Linked DNA regions of Homo sapiens. The protein of the gene in region 1 interacts with the protein of each later gene in a pairwise test. Each region holds a gene or a part of one and is shown in the gene's direction. Other genes may lie near its edges. The genes, in order: RYR2, CACNA1D and KCNN4.

What was found.
Region 2: the proteins of RYR2 (region 1) and CACNA1D come close enough for resonance energy transfer, tested with the Homo sapiens proteins (one study listed by BioGRID).
Region 3: the proteins of RYR2 (region 1) and KCNN4 come close enough for resonance energy transfer, tested with the Homo sapiens proteins (one study listed by BioGRID).

The regions. Positions count from the first base shown.
Region 1 is NC_000001.11:237,035,332-237,046,845, forward strand, and holds the start of RYR2 (ryanodine receptor 2), read left to right. Parts: upstream 1-6,852; 5' UTR 6,853-7,190; coding exon 7,191-7,238; intron 7,239-11,514. UniProt on the Homo sapiens protein: Cytosolic calcium-activated calcium channel that mediates the release of Ca(2+) from the sarcoplasmic reticulum into the cytosol and thereby plays a key role in triggering cardiac muscle contraction. Aberrant channel activation can lead to cardiac arrhythmia.
Region 2 is NC_000003.12:53,796,834-53,807,394, forward strand, and holds part of CACNA1D (voltage-dependent L-type calcium channel subunit alpha-1D), read left to right. Parts: exon of another isoform or gene 1-950; intron 951-3,415; coding exon 3,416-3,532; intron 3,533-4,224; coding exon 4,225-4,592; intron 4,593-5,313; coding exon 5,314-5,340; intron 5,341-6,589; coding exon 6,590-6,739; intron 6,740-8,149; coding exon 8,150-8,313; intron 8,314-10,561. UniProt on the Homo sapiens protein: Voltage-sensitive calcium channels (VSCC) mediate the entry of calcium ions into excitable cells and are also involved in a variety of calcium-dependent processes, including muscle contraction, hormone or neurotransmitter release, gene expression, cell motility, cell division and cell death.
Region 3 is NC_000019.10:43,769,913-43,777,973, reverse strand, and holds part of KCNN4 (intermediate conductance calcium-activated potassium channel protein 4), read left to right. Parts: intron 1-1,337; coding exon 1,338-1,433; intron 1,434-3,354; coding exon 3,355-3,782; intron 3,783-4,073; exon of another isoform or gene 4,074-4,074; coding exon of another isoform or gene 4,075-4,171; exon of another isoform or gene 4,172-4,177; coding exon of another isoform or gene 4,178-4,188; intron 4,189-5,838; coding exon 5,839-5,974; intron 5,975-8,061. UniProt on the Homo sapiens protein: Intermediate conductance calcium-activated potassium channel that mediates the voltage-independent transmembrane transfer of potassium across the cell membrane through a constitutive interaction with calmodulin which binds the intracellular calcium allowing its opening.

The DNA.
Region 1 (11,514 bases):
AAGGCTGGTAAAATGTAGGGTGTCTTAATATTGCAATAAATAAATATAATCCACCAAGTTGGACCTCTTAGCAAACTTCAACAGGTAAGGAGAATTTCTACTCAGATGGTAGATTTCTAGTATCCAGGAATTAGAAATGTATAGAGAGCATGGAGATTCAGGTTAGGTGTTAAAATGGGTAGCCAGGTGGCCTAGTTTAAACCAGACTGAGCACACTAAACTCTTTTTCCTGAAAAAAAGCAATGAATGTTCCCATTCGGAATGGGCAGGGTATGTATTGTGTTTGCTGTCTCCCTGGCCTCATCATCCAGCACCCTCCTGCTCCCTCCTTCGCTCTGCCCATAGTGCACCACTGCACTGCCCTTCCCTGCCCTCCTCGTAATCGTTCACACATGCCATGTACACTCTCAACTCCAAGCCTTCGCACATACCAATCCCTCTGCGTGGAGTGCTCTTCCCTTAGATAGCCACAAGGCTCATTCCCTGGCTTGATTCAAGCTACTGTTGCCATGTGACTTCATCAGGGATGTCTTCCCTGACCATTTTCTCTACAAAACTGGCCCCTCTGTTAACCTTTATCCTGCTTGCTCCTTCCTTCCTTCCTTCCCTCTTTCCTTCCTTCCTTCCTTCCCTCTTTCCTTCCTTCCTTCCTTCCTTCCTTCCTTCCTTCCTTCCTTCCTTCCCTCTTTCCTTCCTTCCTTCTCTCTCTCTTTCTCTCTCTTTTCTTTTCTTTTCTTTCTTGACAGGGTCTTACTATGTTGCCCAGGCTGGACTTGAACTCAAGCAATCCTACCACCTCCACCTCTGCCTCCCAAGTAGCTGGGGCTACAGGCCCGAGCTACTCCTCCTGGCTTCTGCTTTGTATTTTTTGATAGCACTCAATGCACCTGACATATACATTTACTTGTTGGTATCTAGCTCCTCCCCTAGAATAAAAGCCCCATGAAGATAGGGCCAGTGCTTTATTTGCTAGGACAAAGCCTGGGACACACGCAATAAACGTTTGTCGAATGAACGAACGAATAAAGGGTTCAAAGAACCTGCTCATGTCCTGTTGTTCTGTGAATACCTAGAAGACATTAGAGATGGGTCTCATGCTGGGACAAACTCTATGGACACAAGCGTTTGGAGGTTACTTTTGTGTTACTGAACACAGCAAAGTGGTTAGCACCCTGCAGTTAAAGAATGAACTCCACATAGAGGAAGGGATAAAAAGAAGAAAGGTGTTTCAAAATGGAATTTTCTTAAAAGGAAAGTGAAAGTAGAAAGGTATCTACAAAATGGTAAACAAGCAGTTCATGACCATCAACAGAAAGGATCTTAATTATTACCCATAAAGAAAAGAAGTATAATAAAAAAGTAGACACATTTTCTCTGCCTCTATGCAGTAGTTATTGCATTTGAGGGACATTACCCTTAAACATACACCTACAGGCCTGGGCAATACAGGATCAAGGGCTGTGGTTCACAGGAGGGAGATACAATCTCTGGCCAGAGTAATCAAAGCCCAGAAGGGGGCTTTGAACTAGTCCTTGAAGCATGGAGTGGATTTCAGCAGGATTTTGTGGCCCTGGATGGCTAAAGAAATAGCAAAAGAAGAGGCACGGCTGAGTAGCTTTTTAATCTGCAGAACAGTAGTCTGGTTGGGAGGCAAAATGGGAATACTAGGAAAGAAATATTGAAAAGGTATGTTTAAGGCTATATCGTGGGGAGTCTCCAAAGCCAAGCTGAGGGGTTTGAACATAACCTGGAGGCATCTGGGGGCCACCTTTCAATGGTTCTAGTTCTTATTGGGCAAGGAAGTGACAAGATGAAAACATTATTATAGGGGGTGGTGCTGGTGGGAGTCAGGAAGATGATTTGCACTGGAAAAGCATAAGAAACAGGAAGATTAGTGATGATGTTAGTGAAATTACTCTGGGATATAAAGACAAGAATCAGGAAAATGCCTTTTACTTATAAAAAGACACTGATGTTCAGTGGGAAAGGTGAGAGAGGAATCAAAAATGGTGATCAGAGTTTGGATTCGAGCTGTAGTACAACAGAAATAGGCAAATCAGGAGGAAGATCTGCCTTCAGAGACACGTGACAGTCAGAATGACCTACTTGGGAAGCCACTAGGCAATTTGAGTTGGAAATGAGGCTGGGGAACCCACATTTCCTTAGGAACCCATACCTCCTGATCTGTAGGGGATACATTCCAAGACCCCAGGGGACGCTCAAAACCATGGATAGGACTGAACCCTATGTATGCTGTGTTTTTCCCCTATACATACAAACCTAGGTTTAAGTTTAGTTTATAAGAGGCACAGTAAGAGATGAACGATGATAACTAGTAATAAAATAGAACAATAATAACAATATGCCAGCATCACTACTCATGCACTTTGGAGTCATTATGAAGTAAAATAAGGGATACATGAACACAGGCACCATGATACCGCGATAGTCGATTTGATTATTGAAACAGCTACTGGCTAACGGTGGGGAGTACAGAAGAGTGGATGCGCTGGACAAAGGGATGATTCATGTCCCGAATGGGACAGAGTGAGATGGTACAAGGTTTCATCACGCTACTCAAACTGGCACACAATTAAAAATGTAGGAATTGTTTATTTCTAGAATTTTCCATTTTAAATTTTGGAACTTTGAGTAACTGGAACTGCAGAAAGCAAAGCTGTGGGTAAGAGGGGACTACAGTAATAAGCAAACTTTTCGTCGGGTGGGGACATCCTTCTCTGTGATGTCCAGGGCTCCTCCGATGCCAAGAGGTAGATCATGTGTACTTTTTCTATCTGCATGTAGTTCAGTCCTGACCCTGGAAATCAGAATACTAATTGTAGTTTGGGGCTTCATAATTTGGAAAGGAACTAATACGATAGTGGTGAATAACCTTCAAGTCTTGAAAAACTGATTTACCCTAAGAATCCAAACTGCGGAGAAAGGCACAAATTGGATATTATTTCTGAACACATAGTAATCTCTGTCTCTTTCCAGAACTTACTTGGCATTCCAAGAGCTAGCAGGACCTGCTTTGGCCTGAAACCAGGGACAGATCTCCCGGGGCTGCCAGAGCCTTTTATAGTTCATGCTAGTCTAGACTCTTTTTTGTGCTTTCCGCTTTGGGATGGAGGTAGGGGAGGAGTATAAGTCCTCGGACCCCTGTGTCAAAACTCAGCAGCTGCATACTCTTGGCCAAGCTACTTAACTTCTTTAAGTCTTCTTTCCTGTTTTTCAAAAATGATATTGCTGCGAAGACGAAAAGAAAAAATAAAATGCAAGTGCTCGGAGCATAGTAAATGCTCAATAAATGAAGTTTCATCACCATCGTCATCATTCGTAATGTAATTTCTGGCCATCTTGCATTAATGCAGAGATTCAGGCCATGTGACCTGAGGACTGGCTTGTGGTGAATTTCCCAGGGATTTATTTCTAGGACAGGTGCTCATAAGAATTATAGTATTTTAGAACACATGCAATAAGGATGTAAATAAAATGGAAATTTTGTAAAATGTTGGTCTGTTGAGTTCTGAAGTGGGATAAGAAGATAGGTATGAAATGTTCCTTAGAGATTTTGAAACAGGAAATCTGAGTTAACAAGAAATGGGCTAAATCTCAGGACGTTAGAGGCTCTCTAATCCTAATTTTATAATGATTCGATGACAATTCCAGAGGCTTTCAAGTCAGTAATAAAGCCTTTAATGTATGTAATCTTAATTGAAAGGAGCTGAATTAAAATGATAACATTGAGTATTTTGCTGAGTTTCCGTAGAAACCTTGAGGAAGAAGTTAATTTTTTAAGCTCATGTACATCATTGGGGAGCTTAGTAAATTGTAAGTCAAAATGAAAAAGCTTACATTTGTCCTAATTTTTTTCTTCTTTAAGGCTGTCTAGCATCCTGCCAAGTGAATAAGTGGGCTACGATGGCCCATTCTTAATTAGATGACTGCAGAAAAACTCTTAATTAAAAAAGCAAAAATATAATTTTTCCCTCTCTTGCAGAATATAAAATTAGTCATAAAGAAGAATACTTCCCAAATTTGGACTAAGAAACATAGAAATGTCATCCTCTAAACTTTTTATTAATAATTTTATGATTAATAAAGATTTAAAATGTAGTATCTATTGAATATAAAGATTATATTATAATAAAGCAATATTAAGATAATAAAAAGCAAAATAAGCTATTATACATAACACGAATTTAGAAAAAGAGAATTTTTTTTTTTTTTTGAGATCAGGTCTTGCTCTGTTACTAGGGTAGTGGCTTGATCATAGCTCACTGCAGCCTCAAACTCCTGGGCTCAAGCAATCCTCCTACCTCAACCTCCCAGTAGCTAGAACTACAGGTTTGTGCCACCATGCCTAGCTAATTAAAATTTTTTTTTTTTTTGGTAGAGATGAGGTCTCCATTGCCCAGGCTCGTTTTGAACTCCTGGCTTCAAGCAATCCTCCTGTTTTGGCCTCTCAAAGCACTGGGATAACAAGTGTGAGCCATTATGCCCAGCCAATAAATATTTTAATAAAAATTACAAAATATATAGATATCAAATACTATTTTCTAATGAAAATTGTAAATAATTTTTTTCTATTTAATGAACTATAGTTTTGTGCCTAGAAAAAGGTCTACTTGTTAATTTCTTTTAGTCTGAGTCTACAATAAGAATTAAATACAGTAAACATAAACTTTAAGCTGTATCCAAATTTTATGTATTTTTTCTCAAGTACACTTAAAATTGAGGTTAGTTAGTATCCTATGATCTCTGCACTGGAATTCTTACTACAATTGTCCACCAGAAGAAGAAACTAGGGAATTATAACTAAATTATCCAAAAGGGTTAAATTTTTTTTAAAAAAGCTATAAGTAAAAAGTTTCCATAGCTTTCACTGAAGTTGCTTTCTTGTAAAAATTATTTTGTTATGTAATTATGAAATATAACAGAATATCAGAGTACCAAAAATAATATTCCACCAATATGCCCATCACCAGTATTAAAACACTTGTTATATTTGCTTTGGTTTTCTTTTTAAAAATAAATGTTGTATATCATTCTCAAACATATTTTTATACTTTTAGAACAGACTAGAGATCTATAAACCTCATAGTTTTGTATTTTTGTGTTTTAAAGTCCACATACACGGTGTGTTTTATAAATAGTCTCTGCTCTATGTCTACTTGCTGTTGAAGACTGTATGGGGTGAATAAGAAACATCGAGTGTCTAGGCCTTTTAGCATTATTCCACTTACATTGAGAGAACTAAAGAAATAATAACCATAACTCTTGCTAGAACAGTTTACAGCCTAGTTAAAATGCCAAAATGAAGACGTGGTAAGCGTTTTTATATTATTTTACCTACCATCTGGGTAGAATGGAGTAATTAAGAAACCTGTCTCTGCATAGTTCTGAATAAAATAGTTTAAAACGTCAATTTGATACGTTCTAAATTTGGAAGATCAAATCATTTAACATTAAATCAGGAGCCAATTTCAGAATATAGTCATTGCTCATGGAGGACTCTTACCCGACTTTTTGGGAGCTCACTGGTTGTTCCTTTAGAGACTCGTAAGAGTAAACATTCACATAAATAATAACGGTTTAAGAGTTGGTTAGTCGTCATGGCTACAGGGATAGGTCAAGTTTTTAGGTAAGGTGACTGGTATACTTCCATGAGATAGGGCAGAACATTACTAGTTCTACCACGGACAGCGAGTATTTATACACATATTGTCATTCTCCTGGAAATTTACAAACCTACCCCAGTAAGTACAAAGTTAATGAATGCTAAAAATAAAATATAAACTGTATAGAACTCAGTGGTCGATTTTAATAATGAGTTAGATGCCGCAGAATGTAAGATGTAGGTAAACGGACGCAAAAATCCTTGTTTTACAATGTCTGCATCTCCGTAGTACTGACATTTGAAAACTTTACTTTGCACATACTTATTTTAAGTACGATAAATGAAAGCGCTGTGGACTAGGAACAAGAGACAAATTGCTTTCTTGTCCAAATTGTCTCAGACCCTGTATTTTCTTAGTCATAGCCGTTTGTTAAGTAGGCATTTGGTAGACTATTGCATGGAGGATTGCGAGAGCAAGATATTACTATCTGCGGTGGAATGCTCGAATTTCTTCTCTCAGCAAGGATAATGGGTAGCACAGTCTGACTTTAGACCCATCCAGTGGTTCAGACTTATAGATAGTATCCCATACTTTACCGCAATTCCTTGTTGAATTAAGGCTTGCACTTCGAATACAGACTACACACTTCTGGGTCTGTCTTGTACCACATTGTCTGGCATAGGCGCTCACTGTATATTTGTTGAATGTTAAAGTTCTGTGCACCAAAACCGTGCACTTTGCATCGATTATCTGCGAAAAGCATGGTACACTAAAACTAGATCTTGAAGAATTCCCATTTGATCATGAATAGAGGTAATCCACGTTTAAAATACCAGGTGTTGCGTAATCTCTACTTGGAGATTAGCCACCCCGTGCGCCCAGGTGAAAGATATCATTCTTCCGTGCGATCCGAAGTGCCGTGGAAGTTAGTGCCCTAGCCCAGTCCAGGAGGAAGGGGCGTCGTGCCGGCGGTTTTAAGCTCGGAAGGGGCAGGGGAATGAGCCCAGGGACCCCAGCGGGGCGCAGGTAGGAGGCTGTGCGCTCGCCGGGTGCGCTCCGGCCCCGATTCCCAGCGCAGCCAGTAAGTGGCGCTGGGCCTCGGGTTTGGCGGCCCGGAGGAGCGGGCTGCGGATTACCTGCAGCAGCGGGGAGCCGCCGAGCTCCTCCCCGCCCGCCCCCACACCCCACCCCCACCGCTGCACTAACCCCGGCTCAGCTGGCTCCGCGCACTTGCTCGGAGGAGCCGGGGCCGAGCGGACCGCCGGCTGCAGGCAGCGAGCGCGGCTGGGCTGCGGGGCTGCTTCCCCGCGTCCTCCGGGCCCGGGCCGCCCTCCTCCCGCACAGTGCGGAGCAGGGAGGCCCCGCGCCTCGACCACCCGCGCCCGAGCGTCCGCGCCTCCTCCTCCGCTCTGCAGGCGGGGACCGCCCGGCGCTCGGCACCCGGCAGCGCGGCCCCCTCCAGCCCCCGGCTCCCGGCAGCAGAAGCAGAAGGCAGCGCCAGGGGCCGCCGCCGCCGCCGAGCTCCGCGGGGCTCGGGAGCCGGCCCCGGCGAGGAGGCGCGGAACCATGGCCGATGGGGGCGAGGGCGAAGACGAGATCCAGTTCCTGCGAACTGTAAGCGCCGTGCGTCGCGTGTGCTGTCAGGGGAAGGGGGCGTCAGGGCATCCACTAGCGGGGTCCGGGCAGAGTGACAGCGGGCAGCGGGGACTCGCGGGCGGGGCGAGGGGGTGCCCCCTGAGGATGCGGGAGGAGCGGGCATCACCAAGTGTGTGCAGGTGTGCGTGTTGGGGCGAGGGAAGGCAAGGGCGCGTGTCTGTGCGCGCGTGTGGAAAGCTAGAGGATGGAGCGCGGCTAGCCGGCGGCAGGCGCCCGGGCTCGGACCCGGGGCACCGGGGACAGGAGCGTCGGAGCTGCGGGAACCGGGAGAGGAGGGGACGGCCGGTCCGGCCTGCCTGGTGGCACGGCTGGGACCTCCCGGGCGGCCGGGGGCAGGGTGCAGAGCAGGGTGGCCCGTGGGGGCGCGGGGAGCGGCGGGAACTCGGGCTGTTTCTGGGAATACCGCCGCCGGGAGGTTTCTTGGGCTTTCGGGCTGGACCCGCGCGTTGTCACGGAGCGAAGACGTTGGTTCGCTTACTCCGTGTAGCGTGCGGCGCAGCTGACCGGGGGCGGGGGTGATGGTGCAGGACGCTGCGCGGAGGTTTCCCCCAAGTCAAGGTGCTGCGAAAGCGGAGGAGGAGTCGCCTCCGTGGTCCCCGCGGTTCCCGGGGCTGGTGCCATCCGTGGTGGTGCTGTGACCGCTTGCAAAGCGTGGAAGGCATGGGAAGCGAGCGTGTGTTTGCGTGTGTGCGCGCGCGCGGGTGGTGGTGGGGAGAACATCGTGAACGTGTCGTTCTCTAAATGCTGGCTTATTGCATGCCAAGTGAAGCAAAGTGTGTGTGTGTAAGTGTAAGGGCAGGGTGGCTGCCCGGGAAAGGTTGGCTCCACACTAATACAATTCTTTCTCCTTAAGTACCTCTTGGCACTGCTCCTTCCTTTCTCTCATTTGTTCGAACACTGCAGATACTTCCCAGGCTGAGGCATTGCACACCTCCAAGCTGGGACTGGAGAGCCTCTCCAGAAAAGAAAATGCCCTAACTTCCTGCTAATAATAACCTAGTTAGCATCCTTTCAGTCGTTCCTTCTCCACTTCTGTCCTCCTTCCCGAAGGATGTTCCCTTGCAGGATTCCCCAGACTTCCCCAACCTAGAACTGCAGCTTCTGCTGGTACTTCTTTCCTCAGCAGTACAAAAACAAAACAAAACAAAACAAACAAACAAACAAAACCACTTCCCGGTTACAGTTACCTATAATCACAGAAAATCGTAGATACGGTGGAATTTTGGAATATTAACTTTTAGGTGTGAAAATAGTCTTGATGTATTTGGGTACTAAACATATGAAAACAGCGAATTTGCAAAGGAACGTTGTAAACGACTGTCTCTTTCTCTTTTGTGCATTAAACGGACTGGGAGAAAGCTTTGGGAAGGATAAAAACCCAGGGTCCACATCAGATGACAACCTAATAGTAATCCAGTCTAATAGCTGCAGGTTATGCACCATTGCATATGCTTTTTGAAGTACTGTTGGCCCAAGACCGGGCTTGGAAGAGCCTCTTCACTAATACCTTGGTCACGGTGTATAAACCTGCTAGTAATACAGTTGTCTTTTTCATAGAAAATAGACTATAAGGGTTTTTTTTTTTTTAAGTAATTAACACCACATTAGATTTTTCTCAAAACTAAGGACTATTTTATTCAGGTGGACAAATACGGTTGCTGTATAATTTTTCAATCAATTCGTATCAAACTCTGTGGGGTTAAAACTAGCTGGGACATTTTGGTAGGCTTCATGCACTCAAGGGCTTCCTGCGGGCTTAACTGTTAAGCCGAGCTCATGGAGGTGGTGTTATCAGAATGCTTAATGGGGACCGAGGGAACGTGCTGGCTGATGAGGTTCTGCACATATCAAGTAATGTCAACTCTGTGCCACTCAGCAGCTGCCTGTCAGCTAGAGCAGCACCTTTGATAAGTGGGTCCTGGGTAGAGATCTGGCAGTCCCAGGCTGGGATTTTTCTTTTAATAAAACATCCGTAGGTTGCTGTGCTGACGACAAATGACCTTGAAGGAGGTGACACAGTGGAGCAGGGGGATTTTTTTTTTTTTGGTATAGCATTAACATCTAAAAGGAAAACATGCCTTTCCTCACAATTTTCCAATTTTCATATGGAAATTCTCAAATCCTTTACCGGCTTCTCCACCCATTACCCTCCATCCTTCCCTCCCCCACCCCCCTTTTTTTTCTCTTAACCTGAGAATGTTGGTGGTTCAGAAATGCTGATGGGGTGAATAATGGGGAGACTGTAGTATAGTTCCCACATTGAAGTCGCTTCTTTTTTTTCTGAGGGCATTTATTTCTCTGTCATGTGCAAGCTTGTCAATATGAGTTATTTCTTCTTCTTCTTCTTTTTTTTTTTTTTTAAAGCAAATAGCCCAAGGAGTATTAGGAATCTGTACATCTTGATAAAACAGTTGTAGATGGAAGAATTCTTGATAGTGATGGATGAAGCTGTTTTGCATAGAAAAACAAAAACAGTCATTAAGACACCGTAATTGTGAATTTGATGGGACATTTCATATGTCCTGATTAGAACATCTGGATTATTATCTTGAGCAGGTCATTGTCTATTGGATTTGTATTCAGCACCCCAGCACATTGAGGCATCTTTTTGACCACTGTCCACAGAAAGCTTTTTTGCTTTTCTTTTTTTAGAAGAGGTGTGAGATCACTGTTAAGGGAAGTAGAGGTGAAATCTTTAATGGGCTGTATCTGTGAGTTATGTATGCTGCTGTAAATTAATTCCTCATTTGCAAAGGGGTTTGTCACTGTTTAGCTTGTACCTGTCTCTCTGGCATCTCTGTTCCATTTGCTGCTGCTTGTCGAGTTGGCTCACATTCCTTCCAAATAGTTATGTAGATGAATGATCATTGATTCAGTGGCTCCCCCATCTGTTGGAAACCTGCCCACTTGGGTCTGTTTATCTTTGAGAGAGATTGAAAATATGTTTTTGTAAACTCTGGATATGCTGGGACACTTATTTTATGAGAGAAAAATCCTATCATAAAATAAGCTGTCAGCTTGTAATGGATTCATTCACTGTCATATCCAAACATATCCATGATTTGGAATGTGTGTTTTATTTTAAAGATTTTATTAACTTACCAATGTAGCATCAAACTGTCATTTGGCATTTAAAAACACGCATCTTTTTCGTTATGGTCCTCTTTTTTTTTTTTTTTCCAACAATCATACAGAATGTTATAGAAGATATTCCTCTGACTTTAGGAAAACCATGGTATAAAATGACCTTGGTCAAGGTTTTTTTTTTTTTTTTTTTTTTTTTTGAGTACTTTGTCTTTCTTTCATTTGTCTAAGCACAGTTGAGTTACCCTTGTGGTGTACTGTGTCATGTAGTTTTGTATTTACCCATAGATTGAGACTTAAAGCTTAGTCCTGGCTGTAAGAATGATCCTGATAGGAATGCTTACGGTCTTCCTCCTGTCTTCTTTTGCAGAATGAAGTATTTCATTATAGATTTCTTCTCAGTGTTCATACATCTTGTTCCACAATGACAAGAAGCATCTTTAAATATACTCATCTACAAATGGTGACAATTATGCAGTATAGATGCTGGTGTACAACACTGCATAGTAGTTTGGATGGGAATACTTAGCCCTAGTTTGTAGAGGTCCAGGAAGGTTAATGGTATGAAGTCAGTACTCAGCAGTGCAGAACGAGGACTAAAATTCAAATCTTAGGCTAATAGTGTTCTTTCCAGGAGAGAAAGGCTTCTTTATCTGCTGTTCAAGTATGTTTTAGGTTTATAGCAAAAGAATACCAAGTCAGTTTTCTCAGCTGTAGGAATGTCACAGAGTACAAAGGAAAAGATGGAATGAGCAGTGGAAATTCGCACTTTTTGCTCCCTTCATAATGAAGCTACGAGGAGCTTTAGATAGATATGCACTATGGTATTTTCCCAAGGAACTGATGGAAAGCCCACCCAGGCTTACATCATCAGACTTATTTTATTTTAACTTAGAAATTAGCATGTACACATTGGCAGGAAGGGCAAGATCTAAAACGCTTAGGGCACTAATTTATTTGACATTCAATTGTATTTGTACTTTGGCTTCAGATAAGTGTTTTTATCACGGCTGAATTACCCAAGAAAGGACTCCAGCAGCACTGGGTGACTGTGCTTCTTTAGATAGCTTTCGGGAGAGAGGGAGAGGTGATGAAGCACACATTTTTCCTGAAACTCTGACATTGTGGGAATTAGATTAATTCAGAAAAC
Region 2 (10,561 bases), on another chromosome or scaffold:
ATTGGACATCTTAAAATAAGTCAATAATGTTTATATTTTATAGCAACTCTGTGTTTCTTCAAAACCATATTTCTGCTGTGATGTTAATGGAATGACTTTATATGGCTTTAATTGTGTTGGTTTAAGTGCTAATGACCACTTTTCAAATTAAAATAGTATTTTGCTGATAGAGGTAGACACAGATATGAGATATGAAAGAATAGATAATTTTACTGTTTGTAAAGTGTTTATCCCAAGAAAAAAAATGTTCTTTTTTTTAGGGCTGTGGAAAAGTAATTTTTTCAAGAGTCTAAGATAGTTTTCTGTATTTCTGGGGATTGGAACTTGTGCCTATGGAATTTTGGGAGCAGCCTAAGCTACCTTTTAGCTTGATATGTGTGCTAGAAAAACTTCATTACCATGTTTTGTGATATGTAATAAATTCAGGGTGCTGTGCTTAAGCTTCATGTCAATTCTAGTTTGGGAACATCTGTTTCCCTCACTCCCAGTCGTGGGGGACAGCCTGACCTGGCCCTACCCAGAACACATGTGAAAAAGTAGAGTCAGTCCCTGACTCTTATGAGGTCTGTTTTTTCCTGCCTGGAACAAGCAGAATATAATCATGATTTCTGACTCTCTGCTTCTGTGTCTGGGAAGAGCGATTCTTCTCTCCTCCTCTAATGTCTCTTTAATAAATATGTTGTCATTATTTGTCTTTGGAAGTGGCAACTTGGGCCACCTTTCAACCTTCTCCATGATTTATGTTGCAAACAAATTCTCTGTCCCATGTCTGTTCATTGCACTATCTTGTCGACTAAATCCTAATCTTGTGTATCACTGAAGATGTGCTGGAGACAGTTTTTGTTTCTATTATGCAATTATGTTATATGTGTATTTCAGTGAAATGTCAACCCGTCAACAGAGGATGATGTTAAAAATTATCCAAATAAATAGTTTTCTATTTCTTTTAATCAGACCTAGTCCAATCAGTTGAATGACAGTAAATAGGATTATATGTTGTTTAAACTTGGGAGCATTTCTGGCCTTTACTGCCTTGTAATATGGATTAATGTACCAAATTTACTTGGGGGTGTTGACTTAAGTGCATTATAACCTATGTTTATTTTGTGGAAGCAGCAGCAGGTGTCTTAAACCTTGTCTTTTTGTTTGGGAGCCTTAGATATGTAACCGAGTTTTCTTCCCAGTTGATCCAAAATCAGAAGTGAACCCCTTGCTTAGCTCACCATCCCTTGATGATGTACCCTAGGAAGCTCTGAATGAATGAAATGCGGCTGTTTAGTACTGCCGGGTATGACCTTTCTTCACGTTCCTGCAGCTGTGCTGTGTAAGAGCTTTTACCAACATAGCATTACAGTTGCCTTCTTGATGTTTCCATGAGAATGGCAGGTGGGTCCACCTCAGAACCAAATGACTTCCCAGGCTCAGATGTGCTGAACTCGTGGATCCTGAGAGAGGGAAAGTGTGTGTATGTGTGCGTGTGTGTGTGTGTGTGTGCGTGTGTGTGCGTGTGTGTGTGCACGTGCACGCACGTGTATGCACAAGCATACCCACATGTGCATATGTGTACACACATGCATCCTGAGCCTGTGATCAGAGGGACAGGAGAGCAAGAAGCAGCCTCCCTGACCACCCCAAGAACTGTCTTGGTTTGACCCGGGACATGACTGTCTGTCCCCTATAAGATCTCAGCATTCCTAGTCAGGAAGCTTAAAGCTTTCATTCCCAGCTCTTCCTTCACCTTCAGAATTCACTAAATGGAAAGATCTGCTGCTCTATCTTCACAGAATGGTTCAAACCAAACCCAACCTGGCACCATTTTTAGCAGAATTGTCTCAAAGGCTTGGTGCTTTTGTGCACCAGGCTATTTTTATAAGGGCCTCTTGGGAAGTTCCTGTGTGACTTTACATTCTAAATTATCATCACCAGCACTGGCATTGGCAACTGCAGGAGACCAGTTTTGAGCATCCCCAGACCAGTGGGACCCAGCCCTGATGGATCTGGCCAGACTGCAGCCACCATCCCCTCCTCCTCCCTGAACCACTTCTGGGCATCTGTTCTACCCCATGCTTGTCTCAGGGATGGTCATCATGCCTATCTGTCCTTGCCACAGCTGCCCACATGCTAAGAGGTGTTGTGGAGGAAGGACAGGGAAGCGGTCTCCTCTCCGAGGACCCACCACTTAGTCCAGTTTTCCTTTGCAAACCACCCTGAGGTTGAAGCATTTGCTGCACATCCATTGTCTTAGCTGTTCTCCAGGCCTTTAGGGCTACAGAGCTGTGGACAGACTGCCAGTGAGTGAGGAGGGGCTGCCTGGATACAGGACCGTAGACCCAGGGCAGAGAGGACATGCCTTCTTCAGATGCAGGACTTTCTGTGGAAAAGAATAAAGTTGCCATACAGTCCCTATTAGTCTTTAACTCAGCATACTGTTTTCCTTCAAACTGGTGGTCAAAACATCATCATTCTCTCAGAGCTGGAGCAGTACCTTCCTCCATGCACCATGCATAAGCATCTTGGAATGCTTCCCTAATGAAGTCATGAACAATGGAAGGGCTTATCCTGGGCCCTGTCTCAACATAGCAGGGACCACAGTGAGGAAGGCAGCTGTGAGGGCGCCAGGGGAGATGCAGAGTATCTGTGACGGGCCCAGAGGGATCTACCAGGGGTGTCTTCTGGTGGGTCTTGCACTGCCTGCAAAGGCTGATAAGCCACTTTCAGTTTGTTGTGATCTTCAAAAAGCGGACCCCCTGTTGGTGAGTTCTCAGCCTGCACACAGGCTACAGGCCAGGGTATCCTGATGACCACGGTGGCCGGGTCGGTGTGCGTGTCAGTCTGCTCCGTCGTGGTCCGAGTGTGCTGGTGGTTGCAGTGTGTTGTGTCACTCACTCGTTCCATGGCTTTTTAGCAGAACCAGTGGCCTGAGGACTGCTTGGTCTGCTTGTGCCTCTGGCACCTACACCTAGGCTTCCTCATCCTAGATGCAGCAAGGGAGTCCACATCAGCCTCCCTTTAGATCGGCCAGGCTGTGCTCCTTGCCCTGCTCTGGGCTTGGAGAGATAGGGCTCTTGTAGGCGAGCCTACTGAAGACTGTCACTGAGACAGGGGCATAAGCTCTTGGCCTGGCAGATCCTAGCACTAGTAACCAGGCAGTGTTCCTTGGAAGTGGGGGTTTTGCAAAGGAGGTTACGGGGTTGCAGGCCTCAGGCATCCTACCTAGGACCTTCTTGACCCTCTGGATGCCTGACCATACCAACAACCCTTAGACTGCCTTCAGTGACATCAGTCAGTGCCCTGGATTGGCTTTTGGGGAAGCCTTCCTCCCCACCGCTGAATCAGGAAGGAGCAAAGCCAGGACCCAGGCTGGCCCCAGGGCCCATGTGTGGTCTAACCTGTTCTGCCATTTTCATTGATCTAGGCGGGATTAAGGACACTGCATGACATTGGGCCAGAAATCCGGCGTGCTATATCGTGTGATTTGCAAGATGACGAGCCTGAGGAAACAAAACGAGAAGAAGAAGATGATGTGTTCAAAGTAATTATTCCACGCCTAGCTACACACTGGCCATCTGGAAATAGCAGGGCAGGACTCCAGTTTGGGCAGTTAATCATCCACAGAAGAGTCTGGAGAATGCAGCCCATCCCCAGGGCCTAGAGGGGCTTTCAGACCACACCCTCCCCCTCTTACAGACCCTCCCCAGGCATCAGCACCTCTTCTAGGGCCAGGCCAGCTCTTTCCCTGAGCTTACCCAGCTTCCCCTCACTGCCTGCTTCTGAGGAGCTCGGCCACAGCCGCTGGCCCTGTGGATGAGCATCCTGAGTCCTTCCGGCAGCTGCCTTTGCTACCCTCCTCCTTCCCGGGCCAGCTCTTTGATCTGCCAGCTGGCTGTCAGTCCCCCAGCCCAGAGAGCATGCCCAACCTTGGGGCCACCAGCCAGCCCAGCTGGGTATAAGTCACCCCAACTTGGAGCAACTGGAAGAGCACACTCGAGTGACAGCCGACAGCTTGCTCCCCAGCTCAGGAAATCGGTAACCTTCCTCATCTCGGGGGGACCAACTGCCACACAGTCACATTCACCCTGATCATTGAGACACTCAGATTGTTTTACAGGGATCCTACGGAGCTTGCCTAGAATTTGTTTTTCATGTAGAAAAAGTTACCTAACATAGCTAGTCTGCATCAAATACTTGTTAAATTACCTGGTGTTGTCTCCCATTATTTTGCAGAGAAATGGTGCCCTGCTTGGAAACCATGTCAATCATGTTAATAGTGATAGGAGAGATTCCCTTCAGCAGACCAATACCACCCACCGTCCCCTGCATGTCCAAAGGCCTTCAATTCCACCTGCAAGTGATACTGAGAAACCGCTGTTTCCTCCAGCAGGAAATTCGGTGTGTCATAACCATCATAACCATAATTCCATAGGAAAGCAAGTTCCCACCTCAACAAATGCCAATCTCAATAATGCCAATATGTCCAAAGCTGCCCATGGAAAGCGGCCCAGCATTGGGAACCTTGAGCATGTGTCTGAAAATGGGCATCATTCTTCCCACAAGCATGACCGGGAGCCTCAGAGAAGGTCCAGTGTGAAAAGGTAACCTTGACAATGTGTTTGGACTTGCTCATGTGGTGTCTGCCCGTGTTGCGTCTAGTCCCAAGGAGCAAGGCGGGTCTGTGCTCTGTGCTCTGGGGCATGGAGGAGGTTCCCCGTAGGCATTTGTGTCAGGATCTGTGAGTGCCCCCCAGGTCACTGCTGCCTCTGACACTCTCCACGTGATGGACCTAAAGGATAAGGGCCACGTGCCATCCTACATCCTGTGTGGGGTGCCGAGGGACCTTAAAACAGCAGCAGCCACAAAATCCACCTCTCAATTGTGCTCACATACTGTGCGACAGGGGTTGGTGAATTGTTTCTCTAAAGGGTCAGTGAGTCAATATTTTAGGCTTTGAGAACCATACAGTCTTGCACCTTCTCAGCTCTGCCGTTGCAGTGTGAAATATGTAAGTGAATGGGTGTGTGGCTGTGCCCATTAAAATTTCCCTATGGTCACTGAAATTTGAACTTCATATATTTGCATATGATGAGATATTTTTTGTCTTCAGATTCTTTTTTATGTTTTTCAATCCTTTATAACAATAAAACCCGTTCATAGCCCATGGGTCATACAAGGCCAGGTGGCAGCCCCTATGTGGATGGCGAATCATAATTTGCTAACCCCTACTCTAGGAGGTAGCCTGATGTTTGCATTGTAAATTTGGTTGGAAATTAACTTTTATCTTCTCCCTCCTTCCCATGTTATGCCTTTCCTGGATAGAACCCGCTATTATGAAACTTACATTAGGTATGTGCTCATTACCTGTTTTTGTGTTAAATACTGTGATGGTATGTTACCAGCTGGCCTCTCTGAGTGCTGAAGAATGAGAAACACTTCTTTGAGCCAGCCTATTAAAGGTTATCATAATTCATGGCTGTGGACTCAGAGGTCAGAGGTTGTTGCTTCTAAGCAAAGGCACCTTCAGATCCATATCTCTGTCGACTCTGTTGCCATCCAAGGACTGGTGTCCACACACAAGGTGCACCCCATGGGCTGGCTCCTGCAGGCCTCGCGATGGCACTAGGAGCATCCATTGTGCATTTACAGGGGCCTCAGCCTGTGTGGCTGGCAGCTCCGGCTGCTCTCTGGGGTCAAGCTTCTTGTGGGTGCTTTGCAGCATGACCCAAACCTCCTGAAGGTCAGGAATGGGATCTTGTCATTTTCCCTGTAGCCCTCAAGATATGTGTAGTATATTCCACTCCACATGTATTGACCTGAGTTGAATTGTGGGCGGAATGCCCATTTTGTTGGGGGCCAAGGGAGGATGGGTCTTCCTGTGTCATGTTATGAAGTGAAGTCGGGAGCCATGTGGGCCCAAGTTGGGTGCAAGAAAGTGGAGAAGTCAGAGGAAGTGCCATCCTTCCTTTGGAGAGAGGATTGACATCACCACGTCCTTCTCTGAGGACTGAGGCCAGGATGAGCCGGGTTTCAGGGAGACTTACCACATTCCTGGGGCAGGGCAGCCTTTGGAAACATGGTGGACATGTTCTGTGACAGTTTCCCCTGTGGCACTGTATCCAGAACTCACTCGACCTTCCTGATTTGATACAGCAGGAGGTCAGTGGCCAGGAAGCTCCTTTGTTCCAGGTTCTGAAGTCACACTGGGCTGGAGCTGGGGGACTAGAAGGAGAGGGAGGGATCAGAGCAGATGCCCTGGGAACCCAGGGTCTTTTTCCCTAGGTCCATTTTTTTGTTCTGTTCTCCAAATTGCACCTATTCCTTTGGCTCCAAGGCCTCTGGACACAATGGTTTGACACCAACATTGTGCAGGGCACTGAGAGAGACCCTATCCTGGCCCGCAGGCACACCACACACACAGACACACACACGGTGCTGTTGCCAGAAGCCGGAACAGTCCAGTGCTGCCTGAGGCAGGTGCGCGCTGGGAGAAGCCAGGAGCACCCGGGCAGGGTTGCCGGCCACAGGCAGAGGTGCAGCTGCAGCAGGAATTATCTGCCGCCTGCCCAGGTTCTCAGATCCTCTCTCCCAACTGCAGGTCCGACTCAGGAGATGAACAGCTCCCAACTATTTGCCGGGAAGACCCAGAGATACATGGCTATTTCAGGGACCCCCACTGCTTGGGGGAGCAGGAGTATTTCAGTAGTGAGGAATGCTACGAGGATGACAGCTCGCCCACCTGGAGCAGGTGAGCTGCTCTGGCTCCTGTGGAGAGCGGGAGGCCGCCCTGCCCTGGTGCTCGGCCCACTCCGGAAGCCAGGGCCACCGGCAGCTGCACTTGGGCTTCCCCTAAAAAGCAAAATGGGAGCAGAAACTCCAGGCCAGAGGGAGAGTGGAGCTGGAGAAAGAGAGCCGCAGAGAGGCAGGGTGAGGGCTATTCTTTCAGACCTGTTGCCTTATTTCCACTAGGGGCCTCTGAGGCCTTTTAGTGAAGGCTTGGGAAATGGGAGATGGGCCTGCTTCGTGGCTGGGTTAATGCCTTTCCACCACCCGTCTTTGGAGAGATCAGTTTTTGCTGAATTAACACTTGGAGCTCTGGCGGCCCCAGGGCTCTGTGTGGACGGCGGCTTGGCCAGCCTGGAGCTGGGCCAGGTCCTCATGCACAGCACCTGCCTCCTGCCACTTCAAGGGGTCTCTCGGGGAGATGAAGAAATGAGGGGTCACTCAGCAGAGGGGTCCATCTTGCTTCTGTCCTACAGAAAGAATGTTTGTTAGTACAATGGGCACTCTGCTTTAGGAGGCGTAGCAGGCGGCACAGGCGGATGAAAATCGCCCTCCACCCTCTTCTCTGAACCGCACCTCACTGTGACCAGGGGCCCAGTGAAGTGGAAGTGGAATGGCAGTGAGGTGGCTTCTGGCATCTGAGCCACAGCCTGACCCTCACCCTCTGCTCCCGCAGCCCTTCCCCGTGCCTCTCTCAAATGCCTGACTTCTGAAACCACTGACTCTGAGCCAGATGAACTCGTGTTCCCTTCTCTAGGGCTTTTGCTCACACTGTGGCCCCTGCTTGGATGCCCTCACTCCGTCTGCTGGCCTCATCCCCCCTGTCGAGGGCCTGCTCTAGGGCCTTGCTTTTTATTTCCATGACTGGAATTGAAATCCCTCCCCCAACCCCCAGAAAAGAAAACCTCACGAACCGCATGAGTTCCTCTCTTCCAGCACTGGCCCTTTCCAGCTCGCATTTGATTTCTGTGTGCTCATGGCATTTTCTAAGCCCATTGAGGGTGGGGCTCATGCTTCATGCATCTTGGTGTCCTTGGTGCCCAGCACCTGGCAGAGGGAAGGCACTCAGGAGAGGGGCTCTCACGGAGGAAATGAGTGGGTGAGAGCCTGGCTCACAGGACATCTGCGATCCACATTTGCCCTGGAGCTGAGGGATCAAAACTGCCAGCACATCCCTCAGCACAGGCCTCCAGTCCTGTAATGGCCCTTGGTCTCCATCTGGAATCTTCCATGAAACTGAGGCCAGCCTTGTTCTCAGCCAATCCTACTGTGTCCAAGGGAGGAGGCGGGGAGAGGAGTATGGATGTCAGTCTGGCAGGGTTGAGTGACAGAGCTTGTTACCTAGAACCTTACTGCCCTCCTCTCTGACCTCCAGGCAAAACTATGGCTACTACAGCAGATACCCAGGCAGAAACATCGACTCTGAGAGGCCCCGAGGCTACCATCATCCCCAAGGATTCTTGGAGGACGATGACTCGCCCGTTTGCTATGATTCACGGAGATCTCCAAGGAGACGCCTACTACCTCCCACCCCAGCATGTGAGGCCAGATTTTTTGTTTTGGGTGGAACCTCCCGGGGAACAGTGTACCTCTCCCCCAACCCCCGCTCTGGGGGCCGGTGATGGATGTGTGCTGCCAGGTCAGGATCCTTAGTCCTCAAGACCAGCCCCCAGCCAGAGAGTGTGTCTGCTTTCCTTCCTTTCTCATCCATATCTCACGTGATAGAGCTCTAGCCTCTTCAGTGCTATGCTTGACTCTCTTTGAGAAGAGAGAGGCTGTGGGGCCCTAAGATTGCACGCACACATCTGGTAAGGGGTGTTTTGCATACATAGCATTGTCTTTGAACCTGGGACCATCCTGAGAGGGAGGCAAACCACACACATGCTTTTGCTGTTGTCAGCCCTGCTGCACTCTGTGATGGGGTGACTGAGCCCCCAAAGGGGAAGAGTGGGCTCAAGTGCAGAGCTGGCTGTGCCGCAGGCCTGTCTTGCAAAACCCCATGCCTCTGAGGGCCACCTGGGCATTCTGGTGTCCATCTGTCCTCAGGCCCCTCCAAGCCTTATCCTCCTCCCTCATCTCTGCTCCTCCTCCCTCCCTCATCTTCCCTCCTCCTCCTCCATCTTCCCTCCTCCTCCCTCATCTTCCCTCCTCCTCCCTCATCTTCCCTCTTCCTCCCTCATCTTCCCTCCTCCTCCTCTATCTTCCCTCCTCCTCCTCCATCTTCCCTCCTCCTCCATCTTTCCTCCTCCTCCCTCATCTTCCCTCCTCCTCCTCCTCCCGCATCTTCTCCTCCTCCCTCATCTTCTCCTGCTCCCTCATCTTCCCTCCTCCTCCTCCCTCATCTTCCCTCCTCCTCCCTCCCTCATCTTCCCTCCTCCTCCGTTCCTCCCTCATCTTCCCTCCTCCTCCCTCATGTTCCCTCCTCCTCCTCCCTCATGTTCCCTCCTCCTCCTCCCTCATTTTCTCTCATCTTCCCTCATCTTCCTCCTCCTTCGTCTTCTAGCATCTTCCTTTATCTTCCTCCTCCCTCATCTACCCTCCTCCTCCTTCTTTTCCCTCCCCCTCTCCTCCCTCCTCCTCCCTCCTCCCTCCTCCCTCATCTTCCCTCCTCCCCCTTCCTCTCCCTTGCCTTCCCTCCTCCTCCCTCACTTTCTCTGCTTCTCCCTCATCTTCCTGTCAAGTCTGTCAGTGCCCTCTGCTCACGGGGCAGGTTCTGGACTTGTTGGTCCCCTTCACTCTGGGGCCAGGAAACCCATCCCACCTAGAGGGGCTGGGGCTGGGGCTGGCTGCTTCCACCTGCTTTCCCTCTGCAGCGGTGGGTGGCAGGAGCTGGCGGATCTGGGTCATCCTGAGCAAGGAACTCCAGCTGGGGGAAGAGGTGCAGCCCTGGCCCCTTCCAGCCCTTGGCTGAACAGTTTCATTTTGGACATGTGGGCATTTTGCTGATGGTTAAGGACTATCCATTTCTGGAATTTCTGAGGAATGAAGCATATTTTTGAACAGGACTCTAATCAGTAACCAAAAATAGCCGTGACACATCGGCTTCTGAGTCTGCCAACTGCATATACTATAAAGAGCACCACTGGGAGGTGCCCAGGGCCCTCTGCCTCACTCCAACTGTCACAGCCCCACTGGGGAGTGTGACCAGACCCATTTCCATGGTTAATATTTAATTCCTCAGCCCTGAACACATGCAGCTAAATGAAGTCACTCCTTTCCCATAAATACTAGATGAAGCAGATGCAGGTGAGGCCGGGTGATGGCCCTCGCCCTTGTGAGTTCCACTGCCTTCCTCGGGCCTCGGCCTTTGTCTACTGCCTACTTGGCCAAGCAAGCAAGCACATGAATCCCACCAGCCACAGTGCCAGAGAGGAGCTGAGTGGGCAGGAGTGGCTGTGCTCTTGATTCATAAGGTGGTTTTGCTTTGCTGCCCCGCAGCTCAGACCTTGGACAGGAAGAACATTTCCCTCCTCCACCTGTGTTCTCAGCTGCAGGGGGATTCCCTCCTCCTCCAGAGAGTGTTGTGCAGAGCACATGAGATGGTGGGGATCCCTGGAGCATTTTAGAAATGGAAAAGCACCACATACAGGAGAGGGACCGCTGCTCTCCTTTCCCAGCCCCCAGCCCGGCCATTCGATCTGGAAACCTATGCTCCACAGCACAGTTGGCCCCTGGGTGGTGCGTGGAGGGAAGGCTTTCTGATGAGGCAGCCGTGTGTGTCCCATGTAGGCAACTGAACCAGGAGGCCCCACAGTGCGCACTGGGCACGAGAGACCAGGACTGGCTG
Region 3 (8,061 bases), on another chromosome or scaffold:
ACAGCACTATTGTTCTGATAGGGGGTTGGGGAGCAGGCCCCTGGGGCAGGAAACTGGCCCTCTTCCCCTGCTCAGAGGCGGGATGCTGGCCCAGCCAGGGGAGCTGGCAGCCCTCTTAGGAGAAACAGGTGCAATGCTTTGTAAGGACGCCCAGGTGGTCCCCTCCCCCTGCAAATACCCGCCAGGCAGGGACCAACCCCTCTTAGGAAATCCAACAGTCCCAGTCCCCTCTAAATCCCTCTCTCCAGAATTCTAGATTCCTCCAAGGTTGTGCCACACAAAGAGAGGAAAAAAAAAAAAAGGAACAATTTCTCCGTGGTTTCTGGAGGCCCTGTGCTTCCGGCCAGATCTGCCCTGGGCTTAGAGCCAGAAGAGAGGGGTGGCAGTGGGGAGCTGCAGGGGGGCAGAACCGAGGGGGCTGTCTCAGAGCTGAGGCTGGGTCTCAGGGACTCAGCCCTCCGGATGAGAGCAGAGAAGGGTGTGACTCAGTCTTTGAGGATTGAATGGTAGTTTCTACATTCTTCCAGATCTGGGGTTGGGGTTGATTGAAGTTGGTTTCTAGGACAACACCAGGTGGGTAGGAAGGGAAGGGGAGGGGGCACTCTCTAGAGGCTAGATGTCTTTTTCTAGACACCACACACACACACCCACACACACACACACACACACACACACCTGAAGAACTATTTTTGATGTGAAATGGGACAGGAATAAGAAGGAATGTGAGTTTCAAGGTCCCCCTTCATGGGTATGGGTCTTGGGAGAAGAGCTGAGGAAGAGGGTAGACACCAGCATCTGGACAGGGTTGTCCTGTTGGGGAGAAAGAGAGCATTCCTGGGGACCAGATGATGGTGTTTTTTTGTTTGTTTGTTTGCTTGCTTGCTTGTTTCGAGACGGAGACTCGCTCTGTTGCCCAGGCTGGAGTGCAGTGGCGCGATCTCTCAGCTCACTGCAACTTCCACCTCCTGGGTTCAAGATTCTGGTTCCTCAGCCTCCCAAGTAGCTGGGATTACACACCCAGCTAATTTTTTGTTTTTTTAGTAGAGACTGGGTTTCACCATGTTGGCCAGGGGGTCTCAAACTCCCGACCTTCGGTGATCCACCTGCCTCAGCCTCCCAGAGTGTTGGGATTACAGGTGTGAGCCACCGCACTGGGCCCAGATGATGGTTTTGAGACTTCTCCAGAACCGACACATCAAGAGGGACTGATTTGCAGGGGAAGGAGGCTAGGAAAATTGGGAATCAAAAAAAAAAAATGGTGGTTTTGAAGGAAAGGTGGAGGGCCAGGCGGAGGGAGACCTGGGATCTCACACCGCTTTTTCCGTCCCCCCTGACAGTGGGCGCTCTACCTGTTCCTGGTTAAATGCACGATCAGCATTTCCACCTTCTTACTCCTCTGCCTCATCGTGGCCTTTCATGCCAAAGAGGTCCAGGTAGGGCAGGCCCCGCCCCTAAGCCTTGCTCCCTCCAACCCCCTCAGCGCCCTGTCAGCTCACACTTTCCACCCTCCTCCTCCTCCTGATCTGAGTAATGAAGTTCTTCTGCCCTAGGTGCTGCGTCCACACCCTCACCTACCCAGATGGGATGAACCATGAGCAGACAGGCAGAGCCTCCCCCACCAGCTCCGCCTTCCCCTGTAGTCCCCAGCCCCCCCTTGCACACTCACGGATGCTGAGAGTGCCCTTGCAGCCCTGCTTCCGCCCCCAGGCCTCTGTCCACTCTGCTCCCAGGCACTCAGCTTCCCAGATCTCTGTGCTCCGACATGGCATCCCCAATCCAGTCCTCAAGCAACCTAAGGTCCTAGGGCTGCCCACTCCTTTTTTTTTTTTTTTTTTTTTTTTTTTTTGAGACAAGGTCTTGCTCTGTTGCCCAGGCTAGAGTGGAGTGGCACGATCTCTGCTCACTGCAACCTCCACCTCCTGGGTTCAAACAATTCTCATGCCTCAGCCTCCCAAGTAGCTGTGACTACAGGCAGATGCCACCACGCCCAGCTAATTTTTTTGTATTTTAGTAGAAACGGGGTTTCACTATGTTGTCCAGGCTGGTCTCCAACTACTGAGCTCAAGCAGTCTGCCCACCTTGTCCTCCCAAAGTGCTAGGATTACGGGCTTGAGCCACTGCACCTGGTCCGGTCCCAGGGGTGCCCACTCCTAATCACCCTATCTCTGTGCCAATAACCTCCCTCTTGCCCCAGACCCAGGAGCTCTCCCCATCCATACCCCACCTTGGGTCTCACCCAGACACATCCCATCCCCTATTGTCCCATTGCCCCAGATCCTGTTGCTCCATTCCCTTTCCCCTCTTCCCCCTCTCCTATCATAACTTTGCATGTAAAATGGGGATTATTGGCCATGTGTGGCAATTCTATGAGCAGTGCCTGGCACATAAGAGGTGCTCAGTAAACAGTGCACATTATCATCTTATCATAGAGTAGCTAAGTAGCCTGTAGCCCAGTGCGCCATTGCCCATGGAAGGGACCTGGGCCTCAGCTTCCACATCTATAAAATGGGGGCAATAATAATATCAATCTCACTGGGTTGTGGGCATTTACTAAGTCACAATATGTAAACGGGATAGAGCAGTACCTGGCGTATCCACGGTGCCCAGTACATGCTGATTTTGTTATTGTTATTGTTTTGTTTATTTTGAGATGGAGTCTCGCTCTGTCACCCAGGCTAGAGTGCAGTGGCATGACCTCAGCTCACTGCAACCTCTGCCTCCTGGGTTCAAGTGATTCTCCTACCTCAGACTCCCCAGAAGCTGGGACTATAGGTGTGCGCCACCATGCCCGGCTTATTTTTGTATTTTTCAGTAGAGATGGAGTTTCACCATGTTGGCCAGGCTTGTCTCAAACTCTTGACCTCAAGTGATCCACCCACCGCAGCCTCCCAAAGTGCTGGGATTACAGGCGTAAGCCATCGCGCCCGGCCCATGGCTTTGTTATTGCTGATATTATTATTACAGTTATTACGCGTGTCAACCGAAAGGGGAGTAGGAGCGAGCTCCAGGCATGTGGAATGCAAGCTCTAGGGAGGCAGGGGGGTCTGTTGGGTTCACTGTGTATCCTTAGCACATAGAACAATGTCAGGCACACAGTCGGCGCTCAGTCAGTGTTCAAAGGCTGGAAGTGGGCTGAAACTAGTGGGGTGGGTGGTGGGGAAGGAGGAAAAAGTGGAAAGATGTCTTCCTCAAGTCCTGTCCCGCTCCCTCCCTATCCCTCTCCCGCCCTGCACTCCCTCCCTCCTGGCCAGGCGGCACACCCCACTTATCTCAGGGCGCAGGCAGGCGCGGGCCGCCGCCTGACCTGCGCCTGACCTGCTCCTGACCCCTCCCTTCTTGGCCCCCTACCGGCAGCTGTTCATGACCGACAACGGGCTGCGGGACTGGCGCGTGGCGCTGACCGGGCGGCAGGCGGCGCAGATCGTGCTGGAGCTGGTGGTGTGTGGGCTGCACCCGGCGCCCGTGCGGGGCCCGCCGTGCGTGCAGGATTTAGGGGCGCCGCTGACCTCCCCGCAGCCCTGGCCGGGATTCCTGGGCCAAGGGGAAGCGCTGCTGTCCCTGGCCATGCTGCTGCGTCTCTACCTGGTGCCCCGCGCCGTGCTCCTGCGCAGCGGCGTCCTGCTCAACGCTTCCTACCGCAGCATCGGCGCTCTCAATCAAGTCCGCTTCCGCCACTGGTTCGTGGCCAAGCTTTACATGAACACGCACCCTGGCCGCCTGCTGCTCGGCCTCACGCTTGGCCTCTGGCTGACCACCGCCTGGGTGCTGTCCGTGGCCGAGAGGTGAGGGTGATGGAGGCATAAATGCGCAGGGGGGAACCCCGGACAGCCACGGCGGCCGTCCTGTGCCGCGGTGCAGGTTGAGGCCCCCTAGGACCAAGCAGTGGAGAAAGTTCACACTTTGACCCCTTCTCCTCTTGCTGGCTGAAATTTGCCCACACTCCCATCAACTGGGGTGAGAGGAACCAACAGACAAGCCCCCAGCCAATCCTCCACCTGCAGCCTTCAGTCTCCCCAAACGCACACACAGACCCTAGAAAGCCCCTCCCTTCCGGCTGCCTGACCTCTGCCTCAGGTTTACAGGCCATCTGTTCGGTCTCCGAACCTATCTCTGGGACCTGCCTAAAGGGTTGCCTCTGCCTTGGAGGAAGGAGACATATTTTCCCAATTAGCACGGAATGCACTGTAGGTAGGTGCTTTTTGTGATCCTAGGAAGGGGATGATTTGGAACTGCTCTGGAAAATAATTCCAAGCAGGGAATTGGAACTAGATCCTGGTTGCCAGCTAGATACTGTGTAACCCGATGCCGCGCCTCAATTTCTATCCCTTTCAGAGAAAAACGAGGTTGGGAGTGATCTCAGCCAGTGGTCCTCAAAGTGTGATTTCAAGACCAGCAGCATCACCTGGGAACTTGCAAATGAAAACTCTCAGGTCCCTTCCAGACCTACTGAATCCTGGAGGGTAGGGCCAGCAATCCACTTTAGCAAGCCTTCCAGGTGATTCTATGGCCCAACCAAGGTTGAGAACCTCTGGTCTAGTGTATGTGGCAAAGATCCTTCAGGGCAGGAGGAGAATGAGAAGATCTGGCTTTAGATCTCTCCTCTCTGAGCCTCAGTTTCCTCATCTGAAAAATGCATGTCACGTTCCACCATCTGTAGTCTCCCTGGCAGTTCTTGTTTTTTGATCTGGAGTCTCAATTATCCAGGCTAGCGTGCAGTGGCACAATCTCTGCTCCCTGCAACCTCTGCCTCCCGGCTTCAAGCAATTCTCATGCCTCAGCCTCCCTAGTGGCTGGGATTACGGATGTGCACCACCATGCCTGACTAGTTTTTGTATTTTTAGTAGAGACCACGTTACCGTGTTGCCCAGGCTGGTTTTGAACTCTTGATTTCAAGTGATCCTCCTGCCTAAGCCTCCCAAAGTGCTGGGATTACCATGCCCGCCCTCTGTCATGAGTTTAAACTCCTTCACCTTCCAGGATCTTAGTTTTCACAATTGGGAAATTGGTCAGAATCAGGATTAATGAATGATCCCCCCACCATGTTTCTCAATTGAATGATGGGAGAATGGGGAGGAAGTCAAAGTTCCACATTCCAAGGCAGAAGTCCTGAAACTAGAATGTACTTCGGAATGAGGGGGTGGGGTTTGTGAACAGTACAGATTCCATCTTCGCTCCTAGAAACTCCAACCCGGTGGGTCTGGGGTGTCAGGGGCCCTCATGAATGAAGCTTTCCCTGCTGGTCTTGCGGCAAGGGGCCTGTGGACAAAGTTAGACAAATCTCAATGTTTCAACCCCTTCCATGGCTGGACTTAAATGTCTCCTCTGTGAAGTGAGAGGAAAGGAAGGCCGAGTCCCACCAAGCCTTTTTAGAGTCCTTTTTGGTCCTGATAGGGCCACTTCTGGACCACACAGCATCTTTGTGGAAATTAGAAAAATATACCCCTTCCTCTGGGTGGATGTAGCCACCAGTCAGGGTCTGACTGGGTTTTGGCCCCCTATCGACTCTCCACCCTCAACCACACGCTCTGAATGCTACAGCAGCCCGGGTAGCCTAGCTGAGACCATACCGGCATTGGGATTGGCCAGACCCAGTCTCAAATCCCAGAGTGGCTAAGCAACTTGCCCAGGTCACACAGCAGAGAGGAGGCCATGCAGGCTTTCCAAAGCTCAGAACTTAATGGCTTTTTGTCCAGGTGATTCTTAGGACTATGGGTGTATACTGGGAGGGGAAGGGAGGGAACCAGAGGGAAGGGGATGGGAGGGTATAGAGGGAAGGGGAGTGAATATCATGGAAACCTCTATGGTGGGGTTTTAGAACTAACCTACCCTTCCCCATAGGCAGGCTGTTAATGCCACTGGGCACCTTTCAGACACACTTTGGCTGATCCCCATCACATTCCTGACCATCGGCTATGGTGACGTGGTGCCGGGCACCATGTGGGGCAAGATCGTCTGCCTGTGCACTGGAGTCATGGTGAGTACAGCTGCCTTGGGGACATGATCCCTATCCCAAACTGGTCATCCTCTGGCCCCAGGAAGCCATGATTAAATGGGTTCAACACAGGCTCTCAGGGACAGCTCCTGAGAAACTTGAGTGTCTGGGGCCCCCAGAGCCCCATTCTCTCTTCAAGAACAAGATACTCACCTGTAATCCCAATATTTTGGGAGGCCAAGGTGGGAGGATCACTTGAGCCCAAGAGTTTGAGGGTACAGTGAGCTATGATCATACTGCTGCACTCCAGCCTGGGTGGCAGAGTGAGACCCTGTCTCTTAAAAAATAAAATAAAAAATCAGACCTAGGAATCCAGCCCCTAAGTCCTTGCTCTCTCTAGAACCTAGGGCCCCAGCCCTTATCCTCCTCAGGGACCCAGGCTCCTGACTTCGCAGCCCCATTTTCTTCCAGAACTGGGAAATCGTCTCCCAGCCTCCATCAAGGGTGTAGAGTCCAGTTATCAAGTGCATACCTGTGGGGCCAGGCTACCTGGGTCCGAATCCTGCGGCTGCCACTTCCTGGCTGGGGAGCTCAGGCGAGCCACGTGATCTCTCGGGGCCTCACTTTCCTCATCTATAAAATGGGGATGCTGATGCTCCTCATGGGCTTGCTGAGATGATTAAATGGGTCCAACTACGTAAAGTGCTTCCAACAGTGCCCAGCCCACAGGAGGTGCTCAGTAAACAGGTCTAGGGGTGGCCAGGCATCCAGCCACCCCACACCAGCTCCTGTTGCCCTCAAGGATGAGGCAGAGGCTCTGCAGCCTGAGTCAGCCTCTTCCTGAACCCTGACATCCACCTCCTTCCCTCCATAGACCCAGTCACTCAGGTCCTCCCACCCAGCCCTGGCCCCCTCTAGAGACTAGCACCTAATGCCTTGGCCTTCACCTCCCTACAAGATCGGGTTCCCCTCACCCTCGGGGACCTAAGCCACCAGCACCTAGCCCAGATGTGGGCCTAGGAAGGACATATTCATCCCCCAATCCCTAGGTGCACAGGTGAAGGATGTGGTGACCTCCACTCCCCCAGTGGTGAGTCTTTGGAGCAAGGGAAGAGGGGCAGAGACTCAGTTAGGGACCTGCAGCACCGCTCAGGACCTCCTCCCTCATTTGACAAAAGGAGAAACAGAAACCTAGAGAGATAGGGTGATGTGCACTTGAGCTCACAGCCTGCTCCTGGAAGAAAGGCTCCATGGCATGGTTGGGCCATAAAAGCTTACTTTTCCGGAGCACATACTCTGTGCCAGTCTCTGCCCTACACACTTGCCAGGGGTAATTCATGAAATCCACCTAGTAACCCTGTGAGGCCATTTCACAGATGAGACACTGAAATACTGAGAGATTAAATAACTTGCTCAGAGCTGGGCTTGGAACCCAGGCAGTCCCCTGGAGCCAGCGTTTGTGACTGGAAGTTGTTCTGAGTGATCAAGAGCTGAAACTATAGGGTTGGGGATGCTTCCTAGGAAGATTCCTTCTAACTTGGGGACAGGTGAGCAGATGCCACAAGCAGCTAGGAATTGCCAAGGCCTTGAAGGGCCAGGAGCATTGGGAGAAGGAAGGGAGGAGAATGAGTGTTCGGAGGAAGGTGCTCAGGGAGGGCAGGCAGCATGGAGCCAGGGCTGAGTTGTCCAGGTGGGAGGCATAGACCTTGGAAGGCCTTGGGAGCCAGGCTGAGACGTTCAGGCCAGTGGAAGCCTGGGAGATTAGAGGGGACCAAGGGGGTTAGGGGAGGATGAGTGGGAGGCTGGAGACGGTCCAGGAGAGAGAAGACAGGGCTGGAGCTAGGAAGAAGTTGTGGGAGTGGGAGAAGGATGGTCGCCCTCCACAGTGCAATGGCTGACCACATGAGCACTGAGGACCCAGAGGCCTGCCCCTGGCTCAGAACCCAGCCTTCCTCTCACTCCTCCAATCCTATCCTTCATTCAAGAGGCCACCCTGAGGGTGTGAATGCTATGCATCAAATTTGGGCTCGGACGTATGCGATTTATGATTCTAGCTCCACCGCTCTGAGCTGGGACCTTGGCTCTCCTCTCTGAGCCTCTTTGCTTGTCTGCTAACTGGGGATGGTCGT